6 separate regions of the Homo sapiens genome follow, and regions 1, 3, 4, 5 and 6 are each linked to region 2. The links come from fine-mapping of genetic effects on gene expression. A gene starts in region 2. Each other region holds a variant in brackets. All regions are shown on one strand. Distances are from middle to middle.

Evidence for each region. PIP is the estimated chance that this variant, and not a neighbour inherited with it, causes the effect. A credible set is the group of variants that fine-mapping cannot tell apart.
Region 1: its variant is the best candidate, but not a certain one, in a credible set for the expression of RPTOR in unexposed skin (GTEx, PIP 0.70).
Region 3: its variant is the best candidate, but not a certain one, in a credible set for the expression of RPTOR in whole blood (INTERVAL, PIP 0.88).
Region 4: its variant is the best candidate, but not a certain one, in a credible set for the expression of RPTOR in whole blood (TOPMed, PIP 0.76).
Region 5: its variant is the best candidate, but not a certain one, in a credible set for the expression of RPTOR in monocytes after interferon gamma (Fairfax 2014, PIP 0.66).
Region 6: its variant is the best candidate, but not a certain one, in a credible set for the expression of RPTOR in blood mononuclear cells (TOPMed, PIP 0.59).

The regions. Positions count from the first base shown.
Region 1 is chr17:80,689,012-80,694,197 of GRCh38, reverse strand. All of the region lies in intron 3 of RPTOR (regulatory associated protein of MTOR complex 1), which reads right to left. Among named protein-coding and RNA genes, the nearest start is that of RPTOR, 150 kb to the right of the region's middle. RefSeq lists enhancers at 1-25, 1-493. The variant T/A (reference allele first, on the strand shown) is at 2,799.
Region 2 is chr17:80,542,808-80,547,993 of GRCh38, reverse strand. RPTOR (regulatory associated protein of MTOR complex 1) reads right to left here and starts at 3,156. Exons shown (of 34, transcript NM_020761.3): 1 at 2,203-3,156. The coding sequence starts at 2,364. RefSeq lists enhancers at 1,809-2,635, 2,563-2,662, 2,943-3,302, 2,636-3,462.
Region 3 is chr17:80,763,854-80,769,039 of GRCh38, reverse strand. All of the region lies in intron 6 of RPTOR (regulatory associated protein of MTOR complex 1), which reads right to left. Among named protein-coding and RNA genes, the nearest start is that of RPTOR, 220 kb to the right of the region's middle. The variant G/A (reference allele first, on the strand shown) is at 3,119.
Region 4 is chr17:80,704,570-80,709,755 of GRCh38, reverse strand. It overlaps RPTOR (regulatory associated protein of MTOR complex 1), which reads right to left. Exons shown (of 34, transcript NM_020761.3): 4 at 1,757-1,915. Among named protein-coding and RNA genes, the nearest start is that of RPTOR, 160 kb to the right of the region's middle. RefSeq lists an enhancer at 4,642-4,761. The variant T/C (reference allele first, on the strand shown) is at 2,036.
Region 5 is chr17:80,964,035-80,969,220 of GRCh38, reverse strand. It overlaps RPTOR (regulatory associated protein of MTOR complex 1), which reads right to left. Exons shown (of 34, transcript NM_020761.3): 34 at 2,853-4,959. The coding sequence ends at 4,891. LOC400627 (a long non-coding RNA gene) reads left to right here. Exons shown (of 2, transcript NR_148968.1): 2 at 276-2,982. Among named protein-coding and RNA genes, the nearest start is that of CHMP6, 25 kb to the left of the region's middle. RefSeq lists enhancers at 3,389-3,938, 4,489-5,038. The variant A/G (reference allele first, on the strand shown) is at 3,164.
Region 6 is chr17:80,668,789-80,673,974 of GRCh38, reverse strand. The region is part of intron 3 of RPTOR (regulatory associated protein of MTOR complex 1); the gene reads right to left. Among named protein-coding and RNA genes, the nearest start is that of RPTOR, 130 kb to the right of the region's middle. The variant A/T (reference allele first, on the strand shown) is at 2,237.

The DNA.
Region 1 (5,186 bases), 150 kb before region 2:
TCCCCACCCACTCTGAATGAAGCCCCAGATGAGGCACCTGAGGCTGCAGCAGTGGCAAACAAAAGCTGAGATGTCAGAGCCGCCTGTATTTGCTCTACAGCTGTAAACGCAAATCTTCAGCTCGCATTCTTGACAGCGCTCTTTACTTTCTGAAGAAATTTCTAATTTCTTGTCAGATTTCATTTCAAGTTCACAATGTCCCTCTCCGTTCAGACCAAGCCCGTTTCTGCGCAGAGCATCGGCCGCCAGGAGCAAGAGGATGTGAGCTGCTGGCTGCGTGGACGCTCCGGACCATGCCGGGCTCTCCAGACATTCCCCAGCCTCTTGCTGGGTGTTTCAGGGACCCTGTTCCAGGCCCGTGCCCACCTGATCCACAGTCTGTTTTCCAGGTCACTATCTGAGTCAGCTCTCTGGCCCCTGGCAAAACGCTGTTTCCCACAGCACCATCTGGACGCCCACCCTGCGTGGAAGGGGGTGGCTGACCCTACAGCACCCAGGGCTGGCATAAGTCTGCCAGAGTCTGGGCTGGCAGATGCTGAGAGTAGGAAATTGCGTACACCGAACCCAAAGGGACTACAAGGTCACAGTAACTCGTAATGTTCTCAACACGTGTCTGCCCAGTAAGGGCAGAGTTACGTGAAATTTGTAAAATCATCGACTCTTTCCTTTATGTATTATTCAGTAACAATTCTTCCTTCCTTCCTTAATTTGCAGAAGAGGCAGACAAGAACTAGAATAGCTGGTTTATTATTCAAAGTCCAAAAAGAAAAGCTATTGCTTCCAGATGGGGCCAAATCCACTTCTGAAATGGGTGCTCAGAATCCCCCCAATGAACCCGAGAAACACCATCTCCGCTGGGAGCAACTCTGCCCTCGGGGGCACTGGTGTTGTCTGCAGACAGGCTCGGTCGGCACTGCTGGGAGAAGTGGGCCCTGCTGGCATCTGATGGCAATGGCCTGGGGACCTGCTACACATCCTGTGACTGTCCGCACAGCACATGAGCACACGACCACCACAATCATGAATTAGCTGATCCAAATGCCAATCGGGCCAAGCTGGAGAAACTCTGCTTTAGAGGAAACAATGAAGCTTTGATTCCAATGAGGACACGTGGATTCCAGTCTAATACAGCAACAAGAAGCAAGGTAGAAGAAACCATGTACAACATACAGCACTTCCCTAAAGAGAAAACACTGTGTGCGTGTGTGCGTATATAAATGTACCCAAGGTTACGCATACGTGTCATCACATGTGGTACACATATTATTAAAACATTTCAGTGGTGACCTACAGAAGAAAAGATAAAATAGGCTCACCAGGACAGGAAGAGCAGCCAGGCTCCTTTCAATAAACTTCATTTTGTGTATTTAACTTTGGACTCATGAAATATTTTACATAACTACAAAGCAAAATTAATTTTTTTAAAAAGTAATCCAGCCAGGCACAGTGGCTCATGCCTATAATCCTAACACTTTGGGAGGCTGAGGCAGGAGGATCACTTGAGGCCAGGAGTTCAAGACCAGCCTGGGCAACATAGGAAGACTTCATCACTACTAAAAATATAAATAAATAAATTAGGCCAGGCACGGTGGCTCACGCCTGTAATCCTAGCACTTTGGGAGGCCAAGGCAGGTGGATCACCTGAGGTCAGGAGTTCAAGACCAGCCTGACCAACATGGAGAAACCCCATCTCTACTGAAAATACAAAATTAGCTGGGCATGGTGGCATGTGCCTGTAATCCCAGCTACTTGGGAGGCTGAGGCAGGAGAATCGCTTGAACCTGGGAGGTGGAGGTTGCGGTGAGCCGAGATCATGCCACTGCGCTCCAGCCTGGATAACAGAGTAAGACTCCATCTCAAAAAAATAACATAACATAACATAACATAACATAACATAACATAACATAACATAACATAACGTAGCCAGACATGGTGGCGTGCACCTATAGTCTTGGCTACTTGAGAGGCTGAGGTGGGAGGATGGCTTGAGCCCAGGAGGTTGAGGCTGCAGTGAACTATGATTCTGCTACTGTACTCCAGCCTGGGCCACAGTGAGAGCCTGTCTCAAAAATAAATAAATAAAAATACAGGGTAATGTCACTCGACATCTGTGCCTAACCTGAGAAGGAAGGGCGAGTGCCTCAGCAGCGGCTATGCCTCGGCAGCGGCTCTCAGTAACCGCGTCAGTGGCAGTGCTGGTGTTGCTTTCTGAAACTGCCAGGTGTGGTGCAGGATAAGAGAATGGGTAATTACGTTGGTGTTCATGAACAATCTGAGCACTCCATGTGGAAAGAAGCAGATACAGCTGTAGGACCCATGAGAGTAAGCAGACCTTGCAGACCTGAACCTGGATGTGTAAGAGCGCCTTCGTATTTTATCTTTGAAACACCCATAGAGAAAGGGGGCTGAACAAGGGTCAATGAGCAGCCCTGGAGCCCAGATTAAGCTCTCCATACCACTTCCCATGGAAGGAAACCAAGACTCCCTGGAGACAGACACGTGGCTGATTTCAGGCCTAGGGTAGAAGAAGTACAAAATGGCACAGAACATGCTGGCTTGTCATACCATATCAAAATGAAGCAATTGAGGACCGCGAGAACTGCATCACAAGGCTCAGGGGCCAACACAAAGATGGAACGACGTGGACATCGGTGAAGAACGAATAGAGTAAGTCATGCATTCAATAGGGTGGCCACACACGCCACACCACACACACCTATGCGCACACACTGACATGCGTGCACACACACACATCACTCACATCCACACACACCCCCACACTAGTCACCTTTGAGAGA[T/A]GCAGTGAGAAACGAATACAGTAGGTAGTGCCTTCAACAGGGTGGCCACACACACCACACCACACACATACCTATGCATGCACACACGTGCATGCACACACACACGACATGCACACACACATATCACACCCACACACCCCTTACTAGTCACCTTTGAGAGAAGCCCACACACGATTTTGAAAACTGGTTAATAAAGGAAAGTAAGTATTGATGCTGGCTTTCCTCTATGACTGTACCTTGAGCTATCCAAATAATTGATGAGAGGGTTTCTTTATATAGAGATACTCCAGTTAACAAATAAGGACAGCTAAGCACAGTGGCTCGTATCTGTAACCCCAGCACTTTGGGAAGCTGAGGCAGGAAGATTGCTTGAGGCCAGGAATTAAAAACCAGTCTGGGCAACATAGCAAAACCCTGTTTCTACAAGACATTTAAAAATTAGCAAGGCATAGTGTCATGTGCCTGTGGTCCCAGCTACTTGGAAGTCTCAGGTGGGAGGATCACTTGGGCCCGAGAATTTGAGGCTCCAGTGAGCCATGTTTGCGCCACTGCACTCCAGCCTGGGTGGCCAAGTGAGATCCCCTGTTGCAAAAAAAGGAATGAAACAATAACACCATCTTTTCATAATCTCTAATAAATAGATCCAGACAATGATCATCAATAGCTGCTAATATCACAGAGGGACTATCAGATATCCTAAAGTAAGGACACAGCACCACACATGAAACATTCCCTGACTGAACCAGAATCTAGGGGAGCCCGGCTGTGTCCACCACCGAGAGGAAATCCAAGGAGCAGAGGTGAGTGTGGCTCACCCAGGGCAAGGGGGGAGAAGCCACTGACGAGATCGAGACCACGATAAATTCTACAGGCTACATGATCCAGTTTCTTCAACCAATCAACTGCAGAAAGAGACAGGCAGACAGGTGCACAGAGAGTGCTGGGGTGAGGGACTGACTTTTGGATTAATTACATGGATTAACAGAATAGATGAAGTAACTCACAATACATTCATCTCACTTGCATCCTGATTCAAACAAACATTGTGTGTGTGTGTATGTGTGTGTGTGTGTTTAGAAGCATACTTATCTTTAGAGAAAGTAAATATTTCTTTCAGAAATATTGACAGGTGAAATTACATGAAGTCTGGGATTTGCTTCCTAATCAGCCAGGGGAGTGGGAAGGGGGGACTGGGTGGGGGCACAGATGAAAGGAGACTGGAACTGGCAGCTGAAAATGACTGAAGATAGATGATGGGTATATGTTGAAATTTTTCATAATAAAAAGTTTAAAAATAAACAAATGAATAAGCCATAAAAACAAATAAAGAAGCAAATGAGCAAACACGTTTGAAAATGTTTCAATGATTAAAAGACTCTCCCCTAGAATGCTTTTACATATAACTTAATGGTAAAGTAAAGTTTCCTACTTTAATTAGAATCTGCTTGCATGAAGCGTTTCTCCAAGGTGCAGCCAGACATTTTTAAAAGGTGTCCAGACAGGTAGAAATATTAAATGTGTTTTTAGCAAAGGTACACATACCAAAAATCTGAAAGATTATCATACCTAGAAAAATATGTTTTCTATTGAATAGGAGAATGCTTGAGGGCACTGATCAAAAATTTTAAAAATGAACATAAAGAAGGAAAGAAAAATATGTTTCATACGCGTAAAACACTGATAGTGATATGTCTCAGAAAGATCTTCTCCAGTCTTATAGACAAAAAGTATAATGATGGTGTAAGGTAGAATCAGCCTATGAATGGCCTCCAATTAGCTTTCTGACTTTTCGCTGCAGGTCAGCAAACATGGAGACCATGCTGTGCTTTTGCGCTTCCTCGCTAACTATCTGATGAAAGCCTGAAATCTAGTAAATTCCTCATAACAGCAATCCTTGGCGCTTACAAAGCACTTCTAGCCACATTATCTCCTCTGACCACATGCGTAAGACGAGGCCTCACTGCCCACACTCAGCAGAGGGCTCCAGCGATGGCTTCGGAAAGACGGATGTCAGGGAGCAGGTGGCGTCCTCCGCCCCTGCTACACCTAGAACTCTTCCCACGGGGGAGTGCATGGTTTCTGTGAGTACATAAATGATTTATCATGCGGACTCCAAGATGCAGATGCAACCTCTCTAGGAATAATGTTGCCAAGGGGAACATACAAGTGAATGTGTTCATCTGCTGACTAGCTTCTGGCTGTCTGGGGAGATGAAAGGATTTACTGACTTCATAAGGTAGTCCTGTCACTTTAAGAATGCTGCACAGACATACTCCATACATATGAAACCGTTTGATAAATGTTTAAAACACCTTAAGGTGCCATTTTTAGGCAAAGTCATATCCAAAATCAAAAATGCCCCTTCCTTGCACTTCAGTTTTATCTTGC
Region 2 (5,186 bases):
GAATATTTACAATAAAAGAAAAAAAAAGTTTGCTGACTTCTCAAAGACAAAGAGAGAGGCCTGGCCATAGCCCAGTTGCCCCTTCAGTTATGGCATCAGGGAGCCCCTGTTCCCACCCTCCAGAAACTGTCACACACACTGTGCCAAATGTCAGCTGCCATTTGTCTTTATCTTTGAACCTATGCCATTATTCTTCTTAAATGTGGCCTGTTTCATTCTCTTATGCTACCATCCCCACTCAATATCATTTGAGTTTGCAACTTCTGTCCTATAGCATGTGTGATACGGTCCTTGAGGGAAGAGATGACAAGATTCCAAAGGACCTGACCTTTGGAAGAGGGAAGAGATGACAAGATTCCAAACTCCCACACACTCAACTGAAGATGTTAGCTGCTGATTTTCTCCACCGAAAAACAGATACAGCAAACTTTCTCCCCAGCTCCTTTCTAAGCAGCAATCTCAGTAGTCACTAAGAGTCACAGAACTTTTGTTTCTCTTAACAACCTGTGAAAAGCTTATTAGGGAATGTTGATCATTCACAAATTAATGTTTTAATTAAAAGGTCAAACGTATACCCATTAATCAGTTTCAAACTGTTGGAACATAGGTTTAGGACAGCAGAGAGAACCACATTTCAAAATAACAACAACAAAAAAACTGCCCTCCACAAAGAATTTTTTAAAAAGTCTTTTCATATATGTATAGCAACCACAAAAGCTTTTAACTATATAGTTACTACTAAAGATGTCCATAAGATAGAATTTATACAACCTCCCCCAATGACTAACTTATTTAACTCCTTAAAATGCTTTTGGATGAAACAAATTTTCCTAACCTTTTAGAAGTAAGCCAAGTCAGTAGCTAACTGGTTACTACTGACTGACTGACTAGAGTTACCAGAAGTTTTATTTATTTATTTATTTTTGAGACACAGTCTCACTCTGTCCCCTAGGCTGGAGTGCAATGGTGCGATTTCGGCTCACTGCAACCTCTGCCTCCCAGGTTCAAGCGATTCTCCAGCCTCAGCTTCTCGAGTAGCTGGGATTACGGGCACCTGCCACCAAGCCCAGCTAATTTTTGTATTTTTAGTACAGACAGGGTTTCACCATGTTGGCCGGGCTGGTCTCAAACTCCTGACCTCAGGTGATCCGCCTGCCTTTGGGAGGCCTGCCTTGGCCTCCCAAAGTGCTGAGATTACAGGCGTGAGCCACCGCGCCCAGCCCAGAAGTGTAATCTTATATATGTTCAACATCATATACTAAAAAACAATAATATTCCATAAACATATACATAAGCCTAGAGAAAATCAAACATTGTAACACCAACTTCCTCTTTTATACCACTGAAATGTGCAAATAAAAGCAGCCTGGAGGGAGAAAATAACTTACAAAAAGACAAATTATAAGTGTGCATAGAGGAGAAGCAGTACTACCCTTTTGCTTTTGAGGCCAGGAAATAGATGGGTGTTTTATGAAGGACAAATCCAACAAAATTCGGCTGTTTTCTTTCCTACCAGCTGCTTGTGAGTCACTCTCCACACTCCAAACACCATGCGGACACCCTAAAACCTGCACCCAAGTCTCGACGCCTCATACCCTAACTCACGATTAAAGAAATCCTGTTTCCAAGTTACAGCAACAGGACACTACATAAAAGGAGGAAAATCTAGCTTCAAGAGAAATTGTTTAGAAGACTAGAATGAAGTTCAGTGTAACTTTATAATAACTTTGCACTAATTTGTTACTAGTTGAACATTTTCCAGTAATCTCATTTCCTAGCATAGTATATCAGACTTCTGCACTTCACCCAGCTTGGATATTTTAAAAAGTAGACTAATCATGTGGGTATAAAGATTATATCGCACGTTGTCCTTCCTCTAAGTGTTTACAGAACTAAGTAGTATGCCAAAGAGCATGTAAATACTCGCAATGCTCTATTTTCAAATTTGCTTAACTTTTATTATCTGAATTAGAACTTAGTTGGAATTGAATTAACACTACCCAGTGAATAATGACTAACCAAAACAGCATTTTCCATTTTCAACCAAAAACTGCAGTCTGAAATGGCTTTTGCTTTCTAGTTGACTTACAACGTGTGGCTAGGGGGAAATGTCGGCGCTTTCCCAAGGACACTTTTCGGGCTGTAAACTTTCTTTGTTGGGGAAACTACCAAGTTCAAGGGGTGCCTTCAGAATCCACTTACCCGATCCTTCATCCTCCAGCTCTGAGCTAAGGATTTGGAGCCTTCAATTTTCTCACAGTGCCTCTTTTTCATAAAAGCCAAAGGTAGGTTCCAGTCTGTAAGATCAGCCTCATCTTCCTCCCCCAGGCCCAGAAGAGGCGATTGCAGCATTTCGGACTCCATCAGTGGGGGAGGGGGTGGGGGAGTCCTTGGCAGCAAGCGCTCGAGAACCTCCAGCCTTAAAAACTAGCGTGTACCAGAATTGGTGAAATAAGAAACAAAAACGGGAAATCGAAAACCAAATGGATAAAGAGTGCGGAGACCCTTACTCAGGCAAAAGTCTGAGATCCTTATCTCTAACTCTGAGCGGGAAGTGGGGAGGTGGGGGCCGCTAGGAAATGGGGCAGCCCAAGAAGCTCCGCAGACACACACCACCCCAGGTCCCAAGCCACTGGCTGCTCCTGAGGCTGTACGTTTCCAGAGGGGCTGCGAGGGGAGCTGCCAAAAGCGTAAGAGACTTCAGGCCTCACGATGACCCTGCTCTCGGCCTCCACCGCCTCAGCAGTTCCGAAGACAGGCAGGCCGCTCTTGGTGCCGGTTCGCCCACTGGGCCGACTGGGCTGAGGTCTCCGGCCAAGGGATCGGGTTCAAAGGGCCCTGGGTCTCCTCCAGCCACTCTCAGCCCTGCGGGTCCCGCACTCGTCTGAGCTGCTGCAACCAGAGCCACGACCGGCCCATCGTGCTCGCCTGCACCCGGTTCCTCAACCTCAGGTCCGCGCGGCCTGGCTGGTCCTGGCCTTCAGCCCCGAGGCTCTCTCCTGCCTGAGAACGAGTCCTGAGAAACGGGCGACACGGAACCACGGAGGAAAGGGACAATGTGGGCTTATTGGGTCATGGGAGCTTTGCCCTCTGGTTTGGAGCTACAGTGAAACTCATCTCATCAGCCCATCAAGGAGGACGCCATATTGCCAGGACCCAGAATGCACCGCGGCCTACGGCGTGGCCGACAGACCAAACCTCCTCAGAGCGGTCTCTCCCCGCCACCCAGCATGCAGCGAAGGAGAAAGAGTCCCCGACCCCGTTACCTCGGTTACCATAATTCCGTTTTCCCCAGTTAATCGCCATTTGTTCAGTAGAGGCGTGTTATTAAAGTCAATCCTACAAATGAAACTGTCGGTTTAATTTATTTTTTCAAAAACATTGTCATTATAAATGAAGTTACATGCTCCTGAAATTAAAGGAATCAACCGCCTTGTTTCTTCCAGATTTTGAAAAAGCGGCAAAAGCTTCACTGATAATATTAGAAAATATTAAAAAGCACTGATAATATTAGAAAATATAGTACTTTTTTTTTTGGAGTGTAGTGTCCTCCACAGTGTCAATCAGATTTTCTCTTTAATTTTTTCATAGAGAACCAAGTGAAAGGCCGGGCGCCGTGGCTCACGCCTGTAATCCCAGCACTTTGGGAGGCCGAAGCGGGCAGATCACGAGGTCAAGAGATCGAGACCAGCCTGGCCAACATGGTGAAACCCCGTCCCTACTAAAAATACACAAATTAGCTGGGCGTGGTGGTGCGCGCCTGTAATCCCAGCTACTCAGGAGGCTGAGGCAGGAGAATTGCTTGAACCCGGGAGGCGGAGGTTGCAGTGGGCCAAGATCGTGCCACTGCACTCCAGCCTGGGAGACAGAGCAAGACTCTTCAGATGAAGAAGGGTCTGAAGCAACAGAAGAAGAGTCTGGAGCAAGATTCGATGAAAAAAAATTTCATCTAATACAATTTTTTGTTTAATCTGTTTCGTTTTCTGAGCAGTTTATCCTTTTTAAATTTTTTTCCCACTTCTTGGTAGCAGTAGTTTATTCTTATTTTGATATAGCTTCACGTGCAGACATCTAAAACTACATGTCTGTGCGTGGAGGCAAGCCTCTTGTGTGACTCTCTTTTTCAATTCAGGAAATTTGGCTCATTTACAATGTATAGAGAACTGTGTAAGGTGGACTATAAAACCAAATGTAGGCAGGGCACCGTGGCTCACGCCTATAATCCTAGCCCTTTGGGAAGCCGAGGAGGGTGGATCACGAGTTCAGGAGTTCGAGACCAGCCTGGCCAACATGGTGAAACGCCGTCTCTAATAAAAATACAAAAATTAGCTGGGCGTGGTGGCGTGCGTCTGTAGTCTCAGCTGCTCGGGAGGCTGAGGCAGGAGAAGAGCTGGAACCTGGGAGGCAGAGGTTGCAGTGAGCCGAGATTACACCACTGCATTCCAGCCTGGGTGACAGAGTGAGATTCCATCTCAAAAATAAATAAATAAATAAATAAATAAATAAGAATAAAACGAGGCCAGGCGTGGTGGTGCACGCCTGTAATCCCAGCACTTTGGGAGGCTGAGGTGGGTGGATCATGAGGTCAGGAGTTCAAGACCATCCTGGCCAAGATGGTCTTGATCTCTCAGGATGGTTTTCCGGGGCTTAGACACATGTGGCCATCCATATCAAAATCTTGATGGCATTTGTGTTCCTTTCAAAATGAGAATGAAGAATACAATCCCAGACCTTTCTCACCCAGCACAAAGCAAGCCTTTAATAAAGGCTACAGGATTAAATCATTGTCATTCCGCACATTCGTTTGGTTATTACACCCCATGGAGCCAATTCTCCTATTGAAACTCAGGGCACCCTCTCTGTTGGCAGAGACTATCCTCACAGTTACCAGCAGAGGCTTCAGGGATGCAGGGTCTTAGGAAGACCCCGTTCTCATCTGAAGGCAACAAAATCACTCCTGTCCTCTGCCTTGTCACCTTGCTCCCCACCTCCGGTGGCTGTAGACAGCTGCATTCCAGCAGCTCTTGCAGGAAGTCACAGTTACAGAAAAGCAGCAACGCTAAACCCATTCATCCCTAACTAGCTCTGTGACCTGGGAAAGCCCACTGAATCTGTGTGAGACTCAGTTTCCTCACCTATAACGTGTGTGACCTTGGGAAATCCATTTTTCGTATCTGAAATTCTAA
Region 3 (5,186 bases), 220 kb before region 2:
AAGAGGCATTATCGATTCGATCTCAGCACAAGTAAAATGAGGATGAAAATGGCTTCCGCAATATACTGTCCAGTTTAGCACAAATCAAATGATCGCTTTTTTATTTAAAAAAGGGTCATGAATGCCTGCTATTAAATACGGAGCTGAATGCACTGACAGTTTTTGCATGCAATGTGACCTAACGTCACTGATTAAATATGGAGGCATGAGCACGCTTAGGCACATAAATCAAACAAGAAGCCAAACTGCCACTAAAATGCCCAGAAGTTTAAGAAGAAGATACAAAGAGGCAAATAAGCAGTTAATATGTCACCGTGTGATGGGGATATAAGTCAGTCGATTAGTAGGTATGATTTCAAACAAGTCCTGAAGCTAATCTGGAACATAGTGATGATGACATCAAGCAGGAGACAACAAATGACTTTCTTCCCATGAGACACGGACAGTGAGGAGGCCTGGGACAGGCAGGAGTGAGGCCGGGGCTGAGCACTCTTTCCCGTGCAGTATTTCACCCAAGCTGATTTCCGAGGATTACATGAATAACTCAGTAGCTATGAGAGCCCAACTGTGGGCTGAACTGCACAGTCTTAATTCTTTTCTGAATGCTCCTTTTATGTTAAAAGGATACTCTGTGTATACTTGCTACCCTTGAGTCCTCCAGATACATTACACACGGATGCATTCAAACTCTCACAAAAGTCTTTGGGACTCACTAAGCGGCCTACTGAGACCCCAAGTGAGATCACGCACTCCATGGTTCTCCCGTTAGACAGACATGGGAGAAGAGGAAATGTGAGCCAACAGTAAATGACTAGAAGGTAAGTCCCAACGTGAACCAAAAATATAAAGGCAAGCTGCTCTTAAAAAAAAATTCACGTGGTCAGGCGCGGTGGCTCACGCCTGTAATCCCAGCACTTTGGGAGGCCGAGGCGGGCGGATCACGAGGTCTGGAAATCGAGACCATCCTGGCTAACATGGTGAAACCCCATCTCTACTAAAAATACAAAAATTAGCCAGGCATGGTGTTACGTGCCTGTAATCCCAGCTACTCAGAAGGCTGAGGCAGGAGAATCACTTGAAACAGGGAGTCAGAGGTTGCAGTGAGCTGAGATTGCACCACTGCACTCCAGCCTGGCGACACAGCAAGACTCTGTCTCAAAAATAATAAAATAAAATAAAATCATAAAAAAAAAATTCAAGTAACACTTTTTCTTAGGGAAGTAAGCTGATTTGTAAAAGGCCCCAGGTGCATAAAATTTGGTCAAATTAGTCAACAGTTAGGCAGTAACCTTGTAAAGATTTTCTTAGCTTTTACCATTACTAATTACACCGAGCCTTGGGACAGCAACTTAATATGGTCAGCAGATATTTAAACATTTCACAAAGGTTGTCTGTCTATTCTGTTCATCTTAAAGGTTTGGTAAAATTCACTAGTAAAGATATCTGGGTGCGGGGTTGTCTTTGAATGGTTGTTAACCAGAAATTTAATTTACTTAACAGATATATCCTATCCAAATTTTCTTTTTATTCTTCTGTCAGATTTGATAACTTGTGTCTTTCACAGAATTTATCCATTGCATCTAAGATGAAGAATTTACTGGCATATGGTCCTTCATGATTAAAATGATTCCCTTATTCTCCTTTTATTTACTTATAATTTTCATTTTTGGAGACAGGGTCTCACTCTGTGGTCTATGCTGGACCACAGTGACGTGATCACTGCACTGCTCACTACAGCCTCAATGCCTCCCAGTGATCCTCCCACCTCAGCCTCCCAAGTAGCTGGGACTACAAGCGTATGCCACCACGCACGAGTAATTTTTATATTTTGTAGAGATGGGGTTTTGCTATGTTGCCCAGGCTGGTCTTGAACTCCTGGGCTCAAGCGATCCACCTGCCTCGGCCTCCCAAAGTGCTGGGATTATAGGCATGAGCCCCCGCACCTGGCCCCTTATTCTTTTAACATCTGTAGGATCAGTAAGGATGTGCCCTCTTTCATTTCTGATGAAAGTCATTTGTATCTTCCTTCTATTTTTCTTGAGCACTCTAGAAAAAGTTTTGACAATTTTAATGAACCTTTCAAAAACTATCAACTAGTTTCATGAATTTTTACAAATTTTGGGGTCAACTTCTGTTTATTTTTGCTCTTCTCTTTATTATTTCTTTTCTTCTACTTACTTAGGGTTTAATGTATTCTTTTTTTTCTGGACTTAAAGAAAAACTTAGACCATACATTTGAGAGTTTTTTAATTAAAAACTACAAATAGCATTAAATTTTGAGATCAATTATTGCCGGTACATGAACACCTAGTTAAGTAATGGTGCCTGTTTCTTTCCCTAGTGACAAACAGTGAGCTTACAAACAGCAGTAAGAAAGGGTACAGTGCACACCTCTAGGTGGACCTTTGCAAGCATTTCTATACACTATTAACAAAGGAAAAGAACTGCCAACTAAACAGGTATGTTACTTATTGTAAGATGCTTCTGGACCCCAGATATGTTAAGTGTGAAAACGCACATGCTGGGATCAGGCGTGGTGGCTCATGCCTGGAATTCCAGCACTTTGGGAGGCTAAAGCAGGAGGATCACTTGAGCCCAGGAGTTCAAGGATGCAGTGAGCTATGACTGTGTCACTGCACTCCCATCTAAGTAAAAGGGAGAGACCCTGTCTCTATTTTTTAAAAAAGGACCAGACATGGTGCCTCATGCTTGTAATTCCAGCACTTTGTAAGGCTGAGGTGGGAGGATCTCTTGAGCTTAGGAGTTCGAGACCAGCCTGGGCAACATGGTGACACAGTCTCTACAAAAGATACAAAAATTAGTCAGAATGGTGGCATACACCTGTAGTCCCAGTTACCTGGGGGGCTGAGGTGGGGGGATTGCTTGAGCCCGAGAAGTTGAGACTACGGTGGGCCGTGTTCACACCACTGCACTCCAGCCTGGGTGACAAAGCAAGATCACGTCTTAAAAAAAATTTAAAAAGTACATGCTAGAATCAGTGAACTATGTTAGATGGCCCTTACTGTAAACAGATAATTACAAATGTTCACATTCCTTCTGCTGGTTATGGAGTTATCTTACTGGGGGTCAGGAATTCTAATACTGTTTTAGTGCGAGA[G/A]AGAATCTTTGCCTTGTTCCCAGCTTCGAAGGGAAGACGTCTCCAGTCTCCCCACTAGGCTGGTTTGCTGAAGAGCTCTGATGTAGCCTTTACCACGTTAAGTAAGTCGTGGTAACCTCTATTTAGACGTGACAGACTATAGATGATAGTGATCTCAACTTCCTCCATAACGAGAGAAAAAGAACAGGACAAGGACGGAGAGCCCCAGGAAGGAAATCATGGCAAATGAGAGACGCTGGGCAGGAGAGAGAGAGGCGGAACAACAGAGTTGAGGCTGTCAGTTCGGGAGCCTGGGCACCCAGCTTTGAATCCTGACTCCACCAGCTACTCTCCAAGCAACCTGAACTTCCTCATCCTGAAAGCAGCACTAACGCCAGTCCAAACCTTACAGGCGTGTGGTGTTAGATGAGTGCATTAGTGGAATGGCTCCAGTGACGCTCGACAAATGCTAGCTACTGTTATCCCTGTAACTGTAAAATGTCAACCAAACGTTAAGAAACAGTTGGACAAGCGTAAGTGGCTCAGCAGAGGTGAGAGAAGTGAAGCCTTTGACCTGGACGGTGCAAAGTCAAAATGAAGCACTCACCTCCCAAAGCCTGCTGTCAGCAAGTATCAAGAACTGAGACAACTGGCTCTCTGAAAAGAAGAACTGAGAGCAAGTGCCCAGATGAAAATCTGTGAGAAGAGTGTTCAGAGGCCCTGGACGCCCCCTCCCACACTGGCAGGACTCCCAGGAAATGAAGCAGAGACCCTATGGATGCAGAGATGCGACGGACAGCGTAGGGCTGCCTGTATCTTTCAGATTCGCTCTCTTCATTTTGTTTTTCATCTGTTTATTGCATTTTTCCCCTGGCTCTTTAAGGCAAACATTTAATTTTTCTTGTTTTTTTAATCTTTGTTTTCTGACTAAATGTATTAAATCCTCGCCTGCTTTGGCTACATACACCCCACAAACAGCAAATGTGCTATTACTAACATTTGGCTGTGAGTATTTTATCAGTTTTAAAGTATTTCCTCTTTAGAAATGCAAATCAAAACCACAATGAGATACCATCTCACACCAGTTAGAATGGCAATCGTTAAAAAGTCAGGAAACAACAGGTGCTGGAGAGGATGTGGAGAAACAGGAACACTTTTACACTGTTGGTGGGACTGTAAACTAGTTCAACCATTGTGGAAGTCAGTGTGGCGATTCCTCAGGGATCTAGAACTAGAAATACCATTTGACCCAGCCATCCCATTACTGGGTATATACTCAAAGGACTATAAATCATGCTGCTATAAAGACACATGCACACGTATGTTTACTGTGGCACTATTCACAATAGCAAAGACTTGGAACCAACCCAAATGTCCAACAATGATAGACTGGATTAAGAAAATGTGGCACATATACACCATGGAATACTATGCGGCCATAAAAAATGATGAGTTCATGTCCTTTGTAGGGACATGGATGAAATTGGAAATCATCATTCTCAGTAAACTATTGCAAGGACAAAAAACCAAACACTGCATGTTCTCACTCATAGGTGGGAACTGAACAATGAGAACACATGGACACAGGAAGGGGAACATCACACTCTGGGCCTGTTGTGGGGTGGGGGGAGGGGGGAGGGATAGCATTAGGAGATATACCTAATGCTAAATGACGAGTTAATGGGTGCAGCACACCAGCATGTCACATGTATACATATGTAACCTGCACATTGTGCACATGTACCCTAAAACTTAAAAGTATAATAATAAAATAAAATAAAATAAAATAAAATAAAATAAAATAAAATAAAATAAAATAAAATAACAAAAGAAGTCATACGGTCAGGACTTCAAGTTAGTTAAAGAGATTTTAGGTTTCTCTGCTATATATCAATAATCAGTTTCTAAAAAGACATCTATAGTAGCTATGTGCTTATATAAGTCAATTTTCCCTGTTCAGGTTGATGTCAGGATGAAACAATATGTATAAAGAGATTAGTTATTGGGATTAATGTCAAAGTTCTACAATGAAGTCAAATAAATGTGTAAGTGTGTACATGTAAAAAAAAATAAAAAATATAAAATATTT
Region 4 (5,186 bases), 160 kb before region 2:
ATCAGAGAAAATCAGAGCACACCACAGTCTATCATTAAAAAAAACCTGTGACAACACCCAGTGCTGGAGAGAAAGGTGGGCAGCTGAAACACTCACGCGGTTTACAGCAGAAACAAGATGGGAACCAGCCCAATGCCCATCTGCAGGGAAGGCACTGAGAAGGGCGGGGTCCCGGCAGGGGACAGCGAATGTGGGAAGAGGCAGGGCTGCAGGCCCCTGGGGTCGGTGGCATGAATCTGCAGAGCCTCCGACCAAGTGAGCAAAGCGCACTGCGGAAGAGCGCGCCAGCGTCCGCCCAGCGTATCAGCAGCGATCTCCCGGATTCGCCGTGCCTGAGAGCCAGCACACCGGGGGCTCCACAGAGGAGAGCCAGGGAAGGACAAATTCAAATTCACTGTGCCAGGCGCCACAGGGGAGGGCAGGGAAAGGAGAGACTGCAGCTGAGAAAGACACGCCAGGGGCCTGTGGTGCACGCCTGGTGGTTCATTACATCCTGCTTCTGTAAATCCTACTTCCTTCACAACGATCGTTTTGAATTTACTCAATATTTAACGAAAGGAATTAAAATCAAGCTGGTATCCAGATACACACGGGGAGAGATGGCACTGCCCTGTGCCCTGCGGGAGGAGCTGGGTGGATACCTTTCTAACTTCCGAGGCTGGCTACTCCTCAGTGTCCAGGGTCAGAAGCCTTCCTCGAGGTCTCTGCTCTGGGCCCACACTGCTTCACCACCTGTGCCGAATGCTAGCTGCGAACCCGGGACGGTAGGCGGGAACCGAGAGTTCAGTGTGTGAAGAAACGGAGTCAGAGTCCTCACTATGATGGCAGGAGGCGGTGTCCACACTAAGGAAGCAGAAGCCCAGGAGGCTGACAGCACAACCGAAACTGGGACTCGGATTTGCTGGATTCCAAATCAGTGCCCTCATAGACACGCTCAGGCACATATGGGGCCACCGCACCCTCCAAGAACTGCTTTTCATGCATCACGCAGAGCGCAGTGAGACCCATAGCTGGCTGCTCTGAGACAGACCAAGGTTCCCACCCTGGAGGATGGGGAGACAGTCAGCACCCACCACACCCTGGAGGGTGGGGACAACAGTCAGCACCCACCACACCCTGGAGGATGAGGAGACAGTCAGCACCCACCACACCCTGGAGGGTGGGGACAACAGTCAGCACCCACCACACCCTGGAGGATGGGGATGACAGTCAGCACCCACCACCCACAGCAACAGCTACAGAAGGGGAGCAAGCACTTCATCTGGTCCTGGGCAACGGAATTGCAAAAGGCTGGTGATTCTGACCTTGAGGAGGGAAGCCCAGAGCCTGCACCTGCAGGGCAGCTTGGAATTAGCCCTTTAGAATATATAAAACACTTTATTTTCTAAGAAAATCACCGATGCTTAAAGAAAGATTCTAACGAAATTGAGAAATTGTGCAATTTTTTCAAACTAGAAGGCAGACACTCTCGAGGTCTGTCCTCGGAGAATTACAAACAACTGCTGGTCTTACAGAGGGAACATAAACCACACGCACCACACTTCAAGGCAGTCATTCCATGAACACGTTCTGCCACAGAAACAGCCCCTCCTTGTGCCTGACTACCTGGTCCGTTCAGTTATGGCATTTGGGTTTGTTGAAACACAGTAAACATCAATGGCTTAACAGAAGCTACGGATGGGCAGGACCTGCTCCGACCACCGCAATTGGCATGGCTTTTGGCAGAAACGGGAAGGAAGCTGGAAGGCACACCCACCTTGTTGAAGACCCAGACCTCCCCGTTGACTGTGGGCCGGGGCACCCCGTGGCCATTGTAGTGAAAGAGGACTCGCTCCTCCTTGGCGTTGCGACGTAAGGACGTGCAGAGCTTCTTGACTTCATCCACAGTTGGGTCAAGGCTCTGCTTGTACCGGGCCTGTTGCAGGAGAAGAAATGAAGAAATTTACCACGGACTCCAGGGAATGCTTGGAACTCATCCCCTACCCTTTCCTCTGGGTTTGCAGTTAATAGCTGTGTGGTCCTGGACACATGGCTC[T/C]GAGTTTCTCCATCTATAAAACCAGGTAATGCCAGGCACCCTGGCTCATGCCGAAAATCCCAGCAGCTTAGGAGGCCAAGGTGGGAGAACTGGTTGAGCCCGGGAGCTCAAGATCAGCCTGGGCAGCAGAATGAGACCCCATCTCTACAATTAAAAAAAAAAAAAATTAGCCAGGTGTGGTGGCACACACCTGTAGTCCCAGCTGAGGTGGAAGGATCACTTAAGCCCAGGAGGTTGAGGTTGCAGTGAACCATGATCACAACACTGTACTCCAGCCTGAGTGACAGAGTGAGATGGTCTCAAAAAAACAAATCAAAACACTACATAAGAACTGCCACACATGATGGTTATAAATATTCATTCAACAAACATTGAGAACTACTAGGAACAACAATGAGATAAACAAGTAATGCCTGTCACATGGCAACACCAAGGCAAACGCAGCTGCCACTGGGGTACCAAGTGTTTCTCAGAAGTACGCGGTCCTTCTGAAAACATCTGGAGCATGGAAGAGAGAATTTGCTCAAATGAAGGAGCCTGCAATGTACACATGGCAGCAATGGCAGAAGAGTGAAGAGACCGAGTAAGGAATCGCCCTGCTGAAAGCTCCTCCCTCCGCCTCCTGCCTGGGCCCTTAACCCTGAATGAGCAGAATCTAAAACTGACAGAGAACAATCAATAGCCTTGATATACACAAATAATAAACAAAGGAACATCATGGCAAAGAAAACCCCATCTCGAAAGCCACAGAGCAGACTGAATGCATAGGAATAAGTTTAACATGAAATGTGCAAAACACAGACATGGAAGATTTTCAAAGCTCTCCTGGAAAACACAGAAGACGTGAACAAATGGGAAGATGCTCCCTGCTTGGGTGGGCTGAGTCAACATTCTTAAGATGTCAGCTCTCGCTCGTTTAATTCACATATTCAATGCATTCCCAGTAAATACCCCAAGGAGCTAAGCTGCTACTGAAGGTCACAGGGAAAAACAAACAGGGACGAAGGGCCAGAAAATCATGGCAGCAGAAAGCCCTGAGGGCAACCTGGCCTTGCCAGACACTGCAGGCTCCCCTAGGGCCTCTCATTAAGACAGCGAGGCTGGGGGCACGGAGACCAGCAGCCCAGGGAACTCACACACAAAGTCCAGAATCAGACCCAAGTACACATGACTTGGCTTGCTTGAGAACAGTGTTTACATAGTCCTAATGCTATGAATGCTGATTTTATTTTAGTAAAACTGTGCCAACTTCCAGAGAACCTGAGTGAGGAGAACGGGCCAAGGAGGAGACAGACCTGGCTGGGTGGCAGGATGCTGGAAAACGGGCACAGGTGGGTCATGCGAGGAGCTACTCCAGTTCTATCATTGCTCTTTTCCTGCAAAGTACTTTTCATGGTGAACTCCCAACAAAGAAGAACCGACAGAGTAAATCTACGACCTTCTGGGGTTGGGGAGGGGAACAACGGGTGTGAAAGTGCTGGGGCCACACCAGGCAGTCAGGGAAGATGCCCTGAGTTGATGAGTCAGTGCAAAGCAGCACCAACATATGCCACTAGAACAAATAGCTAAAAGGGTTTGCCTCTGGGTGGGGATTATGTTTTTAAAAAGTGATGTGTATGTTCATCACTTTGATAAACTTTTAAAACTTTCTTTTAAAAACAACTAAAATAAGTAAGGCCAATGCCATGATCATCACTTGAAGAAAAATGCCAGTAAGTGTTTGGAACGTGCAGGGGAGGCTGCGTTTGAAGGAAGGCCTGGGCTCCCGCTGTGCCCAGGCTGGGCACACAGATGCACACGAAGCACCTGCTGATGTGACTGAGAAAGGAAGCAGAGAGGACACACCCTGAGGAGGGCACACCATTCATGCTTAAGAAAGGTTCCCCTGCCGGACACGGGGGCTCACACCTGGAATCCCAGCATTTCGGAGGCCACGGTGGAAGGACCACTTGAGGCCAGGAGTTCAAGACCAGCCTGGGCAACATAGTCAGATCCCTCGTCTCTACTGAAAAATAAAAATAAAGAAAATAAAGAAAGGTTCCCTGGCATTTCCAGAGAAAAAGAATTAGATGTGAGGAAAACAACAGGAAAACGAGGCCCAATTCCTGCAACACGGTTACTCTGTTGTATATGATACACATTTGGTTTCACCTAATTATATACATTAAAACTCTAATTTATGACAACATAAAACCTCTTGGTATTCTAGACCTTGTACTTTGGAAGTCATCAGTAGATGTATGAATATCTTTCAGATGAGGAGATTTAAGAGTTTTTCCAGGTTCCCCCAAATTTTTGTACCTGCAAGCAAAGCCCATTAGAGAACCAAAAGCTAATCCAAGGCTAGCAACCCTGTGCCACTGCAGGACAGTGCGGAGCCCTGGTCTGAGGCGGGGTTAGAGCCACAGAGTGGTCTCCCCTCTCAGTGTCTCCTCGCTCAGAACCAGAATGCTGCTCGAAAAATAAAGCAGAGTCACGAAGGAGACTTGAGAGAGAGCTAACCAACTGATAACGCGGGATCTTCAAGTCCATTTTCATCTATGAAGGATGTGCGTTGACACGCACAGGGGGCTCTGCCAGGACAGGGCTGGCCCACAGGGAGCCCAGGGCCACAGGGAAGGAGGAAGTGCTCAGAGAAGCACGGAGCGTGACAGGAGGGGTGTCGATGCGTGGCCTGGGAGGCAGCGTGTCACCTGCTCCCATAGGTGGGCATCACTGGCCCATGGGGGACCCCAGCCATGCGGTGGCCAATCTGACCCACATGTTCTGGAGGAGCCTGTTCAATGCCCAGCTCTCCTACAAAATTCCTTCTTGAACCCTTTCAGCAGGAAATAATTTTTTCTTTCTCTGAATTAACTTACACTGCTCACTATACATTCATGTGCAGCTATCTCAATTCTGTGTAGACGGTAAATTCTGTGGTGGTAAACACTGCTCACCCACATGTGTGCCTTTCTGTTCAAAATACAAGTTTTATATCCTTTCCCCAGCATTACAACACACTCAGTTACCAGCAACTAATTGCTGAGTCATACTCAGATTTTTACTGACAGTAATTACAATAATTATTAAAGAAACAAATCAATTTGTAGTAAAGAAACTGATAGAATCCTGCCTGAGGTTGAAGTGGTGTAAGTCACTGTCAACATAA
Region 5 (5,186 bases), 420 kb before region 2:
TGAGCAGGAGCCCCCATGGCCACCCCTGGCCCTCACCGGCCCCTCGCCAGAAGGCTGAGCATTCCTCCACATGGCATCACCAGGCCTGGCCCCTTCACCACAACCACACGGGGTCTGGCAGTGGCAGGGGCAGGTGTGGGCCTGGCTCAGCCCTGGCCTCCCCTGAGGCTGGCTTCTACAGCGTGCCCATCCCCATGTTTACAAGAACTCGATTTGTACTCATCTCGGTGACAGAAAAACTGGTGCTAATGGGAAAAATATGACTCTCTCAACAGGAGCCCGCCTGGCACAGCTGCGTGAGTGCCGGGCGTCCTTGCCTGAAACAAACTGCAATTCAGCGCAGGATTCCAGGATTCCATGGCAACGTGCCCTGTGTTCCGGCCCCGGCTGGGGCTTGGGAGCAGCTGCTGTGTCATGGGGGATCCACTTGTTTACCGACAGCCCCAAGGACCCGGACATGGTGCCAGCTTCCCATGCCTTGGCCCTGAGATCTGGGAGGCCCATCGCGGCCGGTGCTTCCCCCAACCCCACTGAGCATCTCCTTCCCGCCCTGTGTCCACCCACCTCCTGCCCAAGACCCCTGAGTGTTCGTGGGCTCTACCTGGTGGGATGCTCTTTGGCTTGTAGACAGGGGTTGGTTGGCAGCATAGTGTTCCCTATCGATGTCCACATCCTAGTGGGAGCCTGTGACTACCTGGCTCGGGGGATCCAGGTTGCAGATGAAATAAGGTTGGATCAGCTGACTTTAAACTAGGGTGGTGACCCTGGAGCATCCCGGGGGGCCCAGTGTAATCACAAGGTCCTTAAAAGTGGAGGAGGGGCCAGCGTGGGGCTCACGCCTGCAATCCCAGAGCTTTGGGAAGCCGAGGCAGCAGGATCCCCTGAATCCAGGAGTTCGAAGCCAGCCTGGGCAACAAAGTGAGACCGAGTCTTCAAAGCCAGCCTGAGCCACATAGTGAGACTGAGTCCTGTCTCTACAAAAAGTAAACAAAAATCAGCCGAGTGTAGTGGTGCACGCCTGTGGTCCCAGCTACTCAGGAGGCTGAGGTGGGAGGATTGCTTGAGCCTAGGTCAAAGCTGCAGTGGCCATGATCACACCCCTGCACTCCAGCCTGGGTGACAGTGAGACCCTGTCAAAAAAAAAAAAAAAAAGTGGAGGAGGGAGGCAGGCGAGCCGGGCTCAGTGAGGAGGGCCCAGGCTGCAGTGGGTGCCAGAATCTATCCTGGAAAAAGGAATGACATGAACACGAGGGAAGCCCCGAAGGGCCATTCAGTGCAGCACTGAGTGAGAGGGGACGTCCTCAAGGAGCCACGAGCCCTGGTGATGAGGCCGTGGTGGGTGGGGGCCCAGCGGGTAGCAGGCGCCCCCTCTGTGTGCGCAGCGGGGCTGGTTGCTCCACATATCGCCCTGGTGCATCCGAGTCCCGAGCTGCCACTCCTGCAGGCCTGCTCTAGGGCGGGGCGGGGCTTGCACAAGCAGCACCTGTAGGTCCCGAGTGCGTGGCTCCCCCAGCCCCAACACACCCCCCAGCCCAAGTGGTGGAGTAAAGGTCTCCGCACATGGCCTTGGGGTGGGGTTAGGACCCCAGTCCCTGCCACCACCCAACAGGCAGGGCTTTGGGCAAGCTACTCAGTGCCCGAGACCCAATTTCTGGTCGGCAGGTGAGAGGGGCCGGGGGGACAAGAGCCTGTTCCCAAGCTCTCCAGAAGTCAGGCCCCTGAGGTGGTGCAGTGTGGCTGACATGACCATCCCCACGGACCCTTGCCTCCCACTCGCCCCGCAGGACCATGCCCAGGCCCGTTGCCTCTGCTGTGGCTTCCACAACATTCCCCCTGGCTCCCAATCCCTGCACGGACCTTGCTGCTTGGGAAAAACCTCAAGGGACAGGCCATGACCTGCAGAGCAGAGTGTGATCTGGAAACGGGAGCCTTTCAAGAATTGGCCAGACGGGGACAGGCGTGGTGGCTCACGCTGGGAGGCTGAGGCAGGTGGATCACCTGAGGTCAAAAGTTCGAAACCAGCCTGGCCAACATGGCGAAACCCCGTCTCCACCAAAAATATAAAAATTAGCTGGGTGTGGTGGTACAGACCTGTAATCCCAGTTACTTGAGAGGCTGAGACAGGAGAATCGCTTGAACCCAGGAGGTGGAGGTTGAGGTGAGCCAAGATCGTGCCACTGCACTCCAGCCTGGGTGACAGCGTGCGATTCCATCTCAAAACAAAAAGCAAACCCAAAAAGAGTTGGCCAGAGGGATGTGCAGATGTGATTAGGGCTAAGGACCCACACAGCCCGAGGTGGGTACGGCCCCTAGGCCTGGAAACACTTCTGGCCTGCATGAGAAGTGGTGACGGTGGGCGTGGGTCAGAGGCCCTGAACTGGAGGAAGGGGCCACGAGCCAAGGAGAGTGGGGGCCTCCAGAAGTGGGGAGGAGCGGGGAAGCGGCTTCTCCCCCAGGAACTCTGACGTGGCCCAGATTTCAATGCAGACTTGAATGGGGCCTCTAACCGTGAGAGGATAACCGTCATTTTAAAGAGAAAGACACGTGTCTGGCCTACGTCACAAGATGGCTCTTGCCACACAGTACGCTCCCTGATGTGGGGTCTGCGCCACAGGGCTGGGGGCACTGCCTGGGAGAAAAGGACCGAGACCTTTGCACACTCGACGTGCCAGGCCCCCTGTGGCCACAGTGCCTGCCTGGAGAGCACCCGGGACGCAGAGCTGCTGGTGGCCCTGGGGACAGCAGGGGGGACCCGGGCAACGTCCCCCCACCCCCCAGAGCTCTGCTCTGACCGATGCCCCCCTGAGGTGGGGTGGGCAGTTTCCTTAAAGACACAGCCGCCAGCCGCGGAGTCTGCGCGTGTTGTTTACTGTTGGTCACTCTCTGCTCTTAGCTTCACATTACCATTTCGTGTTTTGTCAAAGTCCGTCTCAATTCGCGTTTGGTAAAATAAATAGATAATGAGCCTCTAGGCCGGCGCTCTCTCGAGCCGGTTAACGTCGTGATTGAATTTTCACATCAGACCTGTGAAGACAGCCCACGTGCAGGCGGCACGCGGTGCCCATGGGGGTGGGCTCCAGGGTGGAGCGGGGGCGGGGGGGGGTCTTGACCCCTCTGGAGCCACCTGCCTTTTGACAGGTGGTGATTTTGTCTCAAAACAAAC[A/G]GAAACGCGTGTTGGGTAAGAATTGAGTTGAAGGACTGGATGGGAAGCTGCGTGTGCGGGTGGAGCTGGGCTTCTGGAAGATTCTGGTGTTGCCGCCTGGCACGCCCTGTGAGCTGAGTGAGGCCGGGACTCTCTACACCTTCCGGACCCGGGCTGCTTTCTCGGCCCAGACGTGGGGATGGGATTCGTGCCGGAACCTTCTTCTGGTGGGAGCTCGCATTCCAAAAAGGAGCAGCGGAGGGGCCGCCTCTGTCCTGCCTTGTCACGTCCCGGCCAGCCCCAGCTCAGTCTCCAGCTCAGCCCCCTGAGGGCCAGGTGTGTCTCTGGCCAAATGTGACCAGGCAGGGTTCCATCCACCCAGAAGATGCTCTTGGCCACGGCAGGCCACCAGCCACACCGCAGGAGAGCCGGGCCTCGCCACACCAGCTCTCACTCCCGTGGTCGTGGGCCTCTCACCGCCAGAATGAAGCCACCTGGCTCCTTCACCTCTCAATAATCCTGATTCCCGACGAACACGGAAAGAACACTTTTCAAAATACCATCATTGTGGTTGTGTTCTGTTTGCAAAACTGCTCATACACGCCCTGCGGCCCCTCCTGGGCGGGACTGTCCACACAGCTCCTGTCTGCACCACAGGCCCAGCTGTCAGCCGAGGTCGCATCAGCATGGGCGGCTCAAGGCTGGAGACGGGGCTGGTGTCACCCGGAGCCGTCCGGGACCCGGCAGTGCCTCTTGCCTGTATGTGAGGAACGTGTGGGGACAGAGCAGGGAGACCACGCCGCCTGCATGTGTGTGCCCCCAGGTGCCGGCCGTGGTGCCATCTGCACATGCGTGTGCTACACCTGTGTGAGGGCACAGGCATGGAGACCACAGGTCGGGCTGCTGTCCCCGCGCCTGTGGGGAAGAGCAGCCCTTCGGAGGGAAAGGAGCCCCGTGGATTAAGGCAGGGGCTACCTCGCCAAGGACCTGCCTCCCCTGTGCACCGCCACAGCGGCCCCTGCTGACAGCTCTGTGTGAGAGGGGCCAAAACTGGAGTCCAGAGACCTGGAGGTGCGGGGAGGGTGGGCTGTGCGCTTCCTGCTCAGTGATGCTGCCAGCGGCCAAGGACAGCCCGGACCCCTGGGCGGCTTCCTTCACACCCGCCAGTTGGAGGGGCGTCTCCTTCTTCCTCTCTCTTGGTTTCCCGAATTTCCAGTGTCCCCCAGCTGGCTAGGAAATGTCCCTGCTTGCGTGCACTGACTGTGAGAGGTGGTGGGCCTGGCTGGGGCAGCGCCTCTCGCTCGCTCTTGGCCTGATGGGGACAGCTGCCCCAGGGACCCGTAGGAGCCCCAGCGCCTGCCTCTCCGCCAGGGCTCTGTCGGGGGGTTTTTCTGCAGCTAATGCTCTGATTACATGGAAATAAAGTGAGGTGTTTCCCCTTTCAGCGTCTCAGAGAAACACAGAACAGGAGAGGGACAGAGGCGCCGTGGCCGCGGGGGTGCACCTGGATGCTGGTGCTCAGTGGGAAGCCACCGTCAACCCGAGCCCTCCCCTTCCCTGACATTCCAGACACGACAGCGAAGACAGACAAAAGCGAGTAGCAGGGCCCTCCTGCCGTCATCAGCAGCTAAGGCAGCAGCCAACGTTCACACTGCGGGGCCGCAGCAGCCGACGCCCCGTGCCCCGGCGAGTGACAGCTTCACTATGTACAGCAGGCGGCCGTGGCCTGGTGGGCCCGGGTCACGCCGCTATCTGACACGCTTCTCCACCGAGTACACGGAGATGTAGTAGTCGTTGCTTCCCACGGCCAGGTGAGGCTGCAAGGAGAGAGAAGGGGTGAGCAGGGGTTCAGGTGCGGGCAGACACTGCGGGGGGCGGGGGGGCGCAGGCCAACCCGCATCCTTAGGCAGCTCCTGCCGGGGTCTCAGGAACCCCCACGCCCACCTCAGGCCCGGAAATGCCGGGCCGGTCCCACCAGTCCTCTGCAGGGCCCATGCATGGTGCACTCCGTGAGGGGCGTGGCGCTGCCCCGGGCCCTGCGTGG
Region 6 (5,186 bases), 130 kb before region 2:
CAGTGGCAGACCAACCACACCAATTTGCAAGGCAAGACTTCATCTAGTTCATGCCCTAAGTGAAGAGGACTGACAATTAACAACACAAACAACAGCCAGTATCACAGACCTCTCCATCGCGCTTACACAATTCTGACTGAATAATTACAGTTGAGCAAACTTTCCATTTGATGGCTGCCAATGCTGCACTCAGATGAGCTGCAGACCAGAGCAGAGCTTTAGACAGAAATCTCAAACAAATGGGGTCAAGACCCTGAAGGATTTCTTTGAAGAATTGAAACAGGAAATGAAACACGACTTTCCCAGCAGATCCTGAAGACAAACCACAATCAAAGCGCCGGCTACCAAGAAGTGGCTCCATCAAAGCAAGAGCAATCTGGATGACAGCGAAGGTCACGGCAACCGCTCTTTGAGATGCTCAAGGCATTTTGCTTGTTGGCTTTCTGGAGGCCAAACAACGATGACAGCTGCTTGTTACGAGTGTTTGAGAAAGCCTAAGCTTGAGCAGAAAAATGCCCAGGAAAGTGTCACCAGGGAGCCCCCTCCACCTCCACAGTGATAACAGTGCTCCTGCTCATTGCTCGCATCCAAAACAAGCATCCAACAAGGGGAACTTTGTGACAGTTTTCATGGGAAACAATCATTAAAAATCTGCCTTACAGTCCTGATTTGGCTCCTTCTGACTTGTTTGTTTCCTAATCTTTAAAAAATCTTTACAGGAAACGTATTTTTCCTTCTGTTAATAATGTAAAAAGAGGGCTGGGCGTGGCGGCTCACACCTATAATCCCAGCACTTTGGGGAGGCCAATCACCTGAGGTCAGGAATTTGACACCAATCTGGCCAACATGGTGAAACCGCATCTCTACTAAAAATATAAAAATTGGCCAAGCGTGGTGGCACACGCCTATAATCCCAGCTACGTGGGAGGCTGAGGCATGAGACTCGCTTGAACCCGGGAGGTGGAGGTTGCAGTGAGCCAAGATTGCACCACTGCACTCCAGCCTGGGTGACAGAATGAGATTCTGTCTCAAAAAATAAAATAATGTAAAAAGACTGTATAGACACAGTTAAACTCCTAGAACCCTCCGTTCTTTAGGGACAGATTAAATGGGTGGTATCGTCATTTACAAAAGTGTCTTGATCTTGTTAGACCTTATGTTGAGAAGTCTGTTTGTTTGTTTTTTGAGACAGAGTCTCGCTCTGTCGCCCAGGCTGGAGTGCAGTGACGCGATCTCGGCTCACTGAAAGCTTCACCTCCCAAGTTCACGCCATTCTCCTGCCTCAGCCTCCAAAGTAGCTGGGACTACAGGTGCCTGTCACCACACCCGGCTAATTTTTTCTGTTTTTAGTAGAGACAGGGTTTCACTGTGTTAGCCAGGATGGTCTCGATCTCCTGACTTCGTGATCTGCCCGCCTCGGCCTCCCAAAGTGCTGGCATTACTACAGGCGTGAGCCACCGCGCCTGGCTGAGAAGTTTGTTTTTTATTTTTATCTTTTAATTCTTTTTTTGCATGAACTTTTTGAAGTCCCCTCATATATGCAATGGCTGGAGCTTGAGCAGCCATCTTGGACAATGAGGTAACCATTTAAAAAAAAAAAAAAAAAAAGAACCTTTGCACAGCAAAGTAAACATAGGAGGAGCCCGAGGCCTTGCTATGCTGGAGCACTAAACAGCCTTGGAATGACTACTTCTAGGGAATCTTAATGTGAGTGAACAAACTTTAATTTGAGTTACACAATTGTTATTTCCTCTCCCCTGTAACTCTCAGCCAAACCTAATCTTTATACTGTGAGCATAAAGAGATCTTAACCTGACCTTCACAGAGGAGGTATCCAGGGCCACTGTTCCTCTCCAGTATCCGAGTCAGAACACTTCGTAATATAGTATCTGCTCAAAAACTTACCTTGTGATATTAGCCCTTTCTTTAAAATAAAGATAAATCAACCTACGAACCATTGTATTTTAAAAAGAAGCAATAGATTCAATGTACAATGGAAATAGCTACTGGCACCTAGCCAGGGACATTTAATGCTACAACAGCTACTTGGAAATTAAGCCTCCAGTTATATATTAAACAATGACAATAATTGCCTCCTTCAAAAATTCCACGGTCATCTTTGTGCGCAAAGAACACCACGCACACCACAATCCTTTTCCCCTACTGGTTACACCTATTTCAAAACTGAGAAGGTGATTCTACTGCCAAATGGAATGACTAGTGACCAGAAGACCAT[A/T]GGTCAGCCTAGAAAGAAAAGGAAGGCTGCAGATGGCATGCCTGGAGAAGTGTGCTCACTTCTCCAGTAAGCCCCAGGTTCCCTCACAACTATGCAAAGCTGCTTCTCTTACCATTATTTGAAGGATTTTTGAAAGTATCCCCCTTGTAATATGAGTGGACCCCCTTCCCCAACCGACTTAAGTTCTTTTTTAAAGGAATGCTAATCTGTCGAAAATCGTTACAAAAACATGACTTGTGCCTGCAGTATTCTACTCAGCACTATTGACAGAGAGGGCAAATAGACACATCAAATGTCAAGAGCAGGAGGAAAGAAACCAATAATTAGAGAGTGTTCTGGCAAGAGGAAAGAAGAACCCAATAATTACAGAGTGTTTTGATTTAACCGAGATGCTTCAGCAGGAACACACTCTCTCTCTCTCACACGCACGCCCATAAATTTGATTATCAGGAACATTGGCGCTTCCTACTGTGCCGAGCCTGGAGGAAAGGCCATCGGCTGCCGGGCAGCACAAGGACGAAGAGCACAGGCTGCAGAGGGCACTAAAGGCCAGGAGGGGCCCGTGGAGCAACACGGCAGAGATGGTGAGCCCAGAGGAAGCAGGATGTGACTTGGACTCTGAGAAATGAAAGAAAAAGAAGAGAAATTCAGGATACAGCAAAACAGAAGAGGAAATACTGGGCCACGCTCCAGGGCCCACGCTCTTCCCAGGGCCAGGTGCTTTAGGGGCTCAATATGGAGGCAACCGACCTCCAGGATCACTGACCCCGGCGAGGATAAGTTCCAGTGTGCAACCCAGCTCCACCACAGAGAGGGTAACAAGGACGAGCGTGTGCTCCCCTAGGACCAGGGAGAATCCATTCCCCTGACCGAGGAGACCCTTGTGGCTACCGGGGAGGGTTTATGCTTCAGAGTAATCAGAAATGAATGTGGGGGGGAGTTGGGGGGCTGATTATCAAGGGTCCCACAAATTCAACAACTACTGTGTGTCGTCTACAGGCAAACGCCAGGTGCTGCTACACTACACATCTATCGTATACCAGAGCTGAATGCGTGTGTGGACTGCGGATGACCACCTGGCCGGGAGCTGTAGGTACATCTGTTACCAAATGGATTACAATTTCTGGCCTCCTACAGCTCACAGTCAAGTGGGGAAGAGACCCTAAACACAATAAATACGAAAACTGCACAGTGTGTGAGAGGTAGCGAGTGCCATCAAAAAAATAGGGTACAAATAGAAAAAGACGAAGCAGCGGGCAGGCGTCATGTCAAAATCGAGTGCTGACAGCAACGCTCCGGATGGTTAAAAGGCTTAAAAAGGTCAGAAGCAGAAAATCTAATGGCAACAGTGGCATGACAGTGAGGCTTAAGTATAAAGACTGAGAATTAGAACAAGGAGTGGGAAAGGAGAGGGAAGGCGCAAATTCCCGACACGGACAAGGGACGGGTAGGACCTGGTGACTAAGTGGATGGTGATAAAAGAGGGACAATTTAAAGGTGATGTTCTCTGTATTATGGTCGGAAATGAGACAGTTGTGACAAGAAACTGGCTTAAGGTCAAACCTTACAGTGAACAAGAAACCAAGAAACCCGGAGTCCGGTCTGCAGTCGATTTCACTGAGCAAGTCACTTTCTCTGTCCCAGCCCCACCACCTTATCTTTCAGATGAGGGTAATGGTTTTAAACTATTATTCAGATCTCTTGTACATCTAAAGCTTCCAATTTTAGGATGAATTCCACTCAGACAAGACAAATCTAAAGATACCTGAGTGATGTTGTAGACTGTCTCAAATACACAATTTGAGCAAAGACAGAGGCCAGGCCTAAAGAGGCATTCAGAAATCAAACATGAAAGTGACGACTGAAGAACAAAAAAAATGAATTATTTGAATAAGTATCAGAAGTATCAGGAAAAAAAGGAAGGGAAGAGGAAAGAGAGATGATCCACAGAGGGGAAGAGCTCCTGGTGCAGAAGATTGTCCCTCCATGGAGAGGTCTGGGGGTCACCAGAGCGCAGGGGAGAAACATAACAAGGCGTTTTAAGAGTGAACTACTGGGCCGGGCGCGGTGGCGCACGCCTGTAATCCAGCACTTCAGGAGGCCAAGGCGGGCGGATCACCTGAGGTCAGGAGTTCAAGAACAGCCTGACCAACATGGAAAAACCCCATCTCTATTAAAAATACAAAATTAGCCGGGCATGGTGGCGCACGCCTGTAATCCCAGCTACCCGGGAGGCTGAGGCAGGAGAATCGCTTGAACCTGGGAGGCGGAGGTTGCGGTGAGCTGAGATCGCGCCACTGCACTCCAGCCTGGGCGACAAGAGTGAAACTCCGTCTCAAAAAAAAGAAAGAATGAACTACTGTATGCAACAGGGATGAGGTCAGGGAAGTTCCCCAGAAACCACTGGTGCTATTAATGCAGCAAGGGCAGCACTCCGGGTGTTCTGTGACTTACAGATTCCGTGCAAGGGCAAGAGAAGAAGAATTTGGACTCAGCTTTCAGGGAAGGCAGGCCAGGACCAGTGGCCTGTGCAGCAGCTGGGAAATGCCCCCTACCCACATTCCCACGCCCTAGAAAGCCCCAGAAGCCCCCAGCCCCTGGCTGCTCCTGCTGAGCCAGCAGAACGGGCAGGTCCCACCACCTCCCTCGGTGCACACTTAGGGTAGCCTGGCCTCCGGCAAGCGTGTCCCCGAGCAAAGCCCTGGCTGCAGGGGCACCTGGCTCTCCAGCCTCTGTGGTGTGAGAAGCACCCGGGAGGCAGCAGACCCACAGCACTGCCACAGCTACTAAAGCTCTTTCTTTCATTGATATTCAACTCGTCCTTTACAGAATACTGGACAGAATAAAATCTGACCTTTAAAACAGTTGTTCTTCTCTGAAATCATGGGAACAACATTCTCATGCTCAAACCCGAATGCGGACAAGCCGCTGTCCTGAGACTAAACTCCAG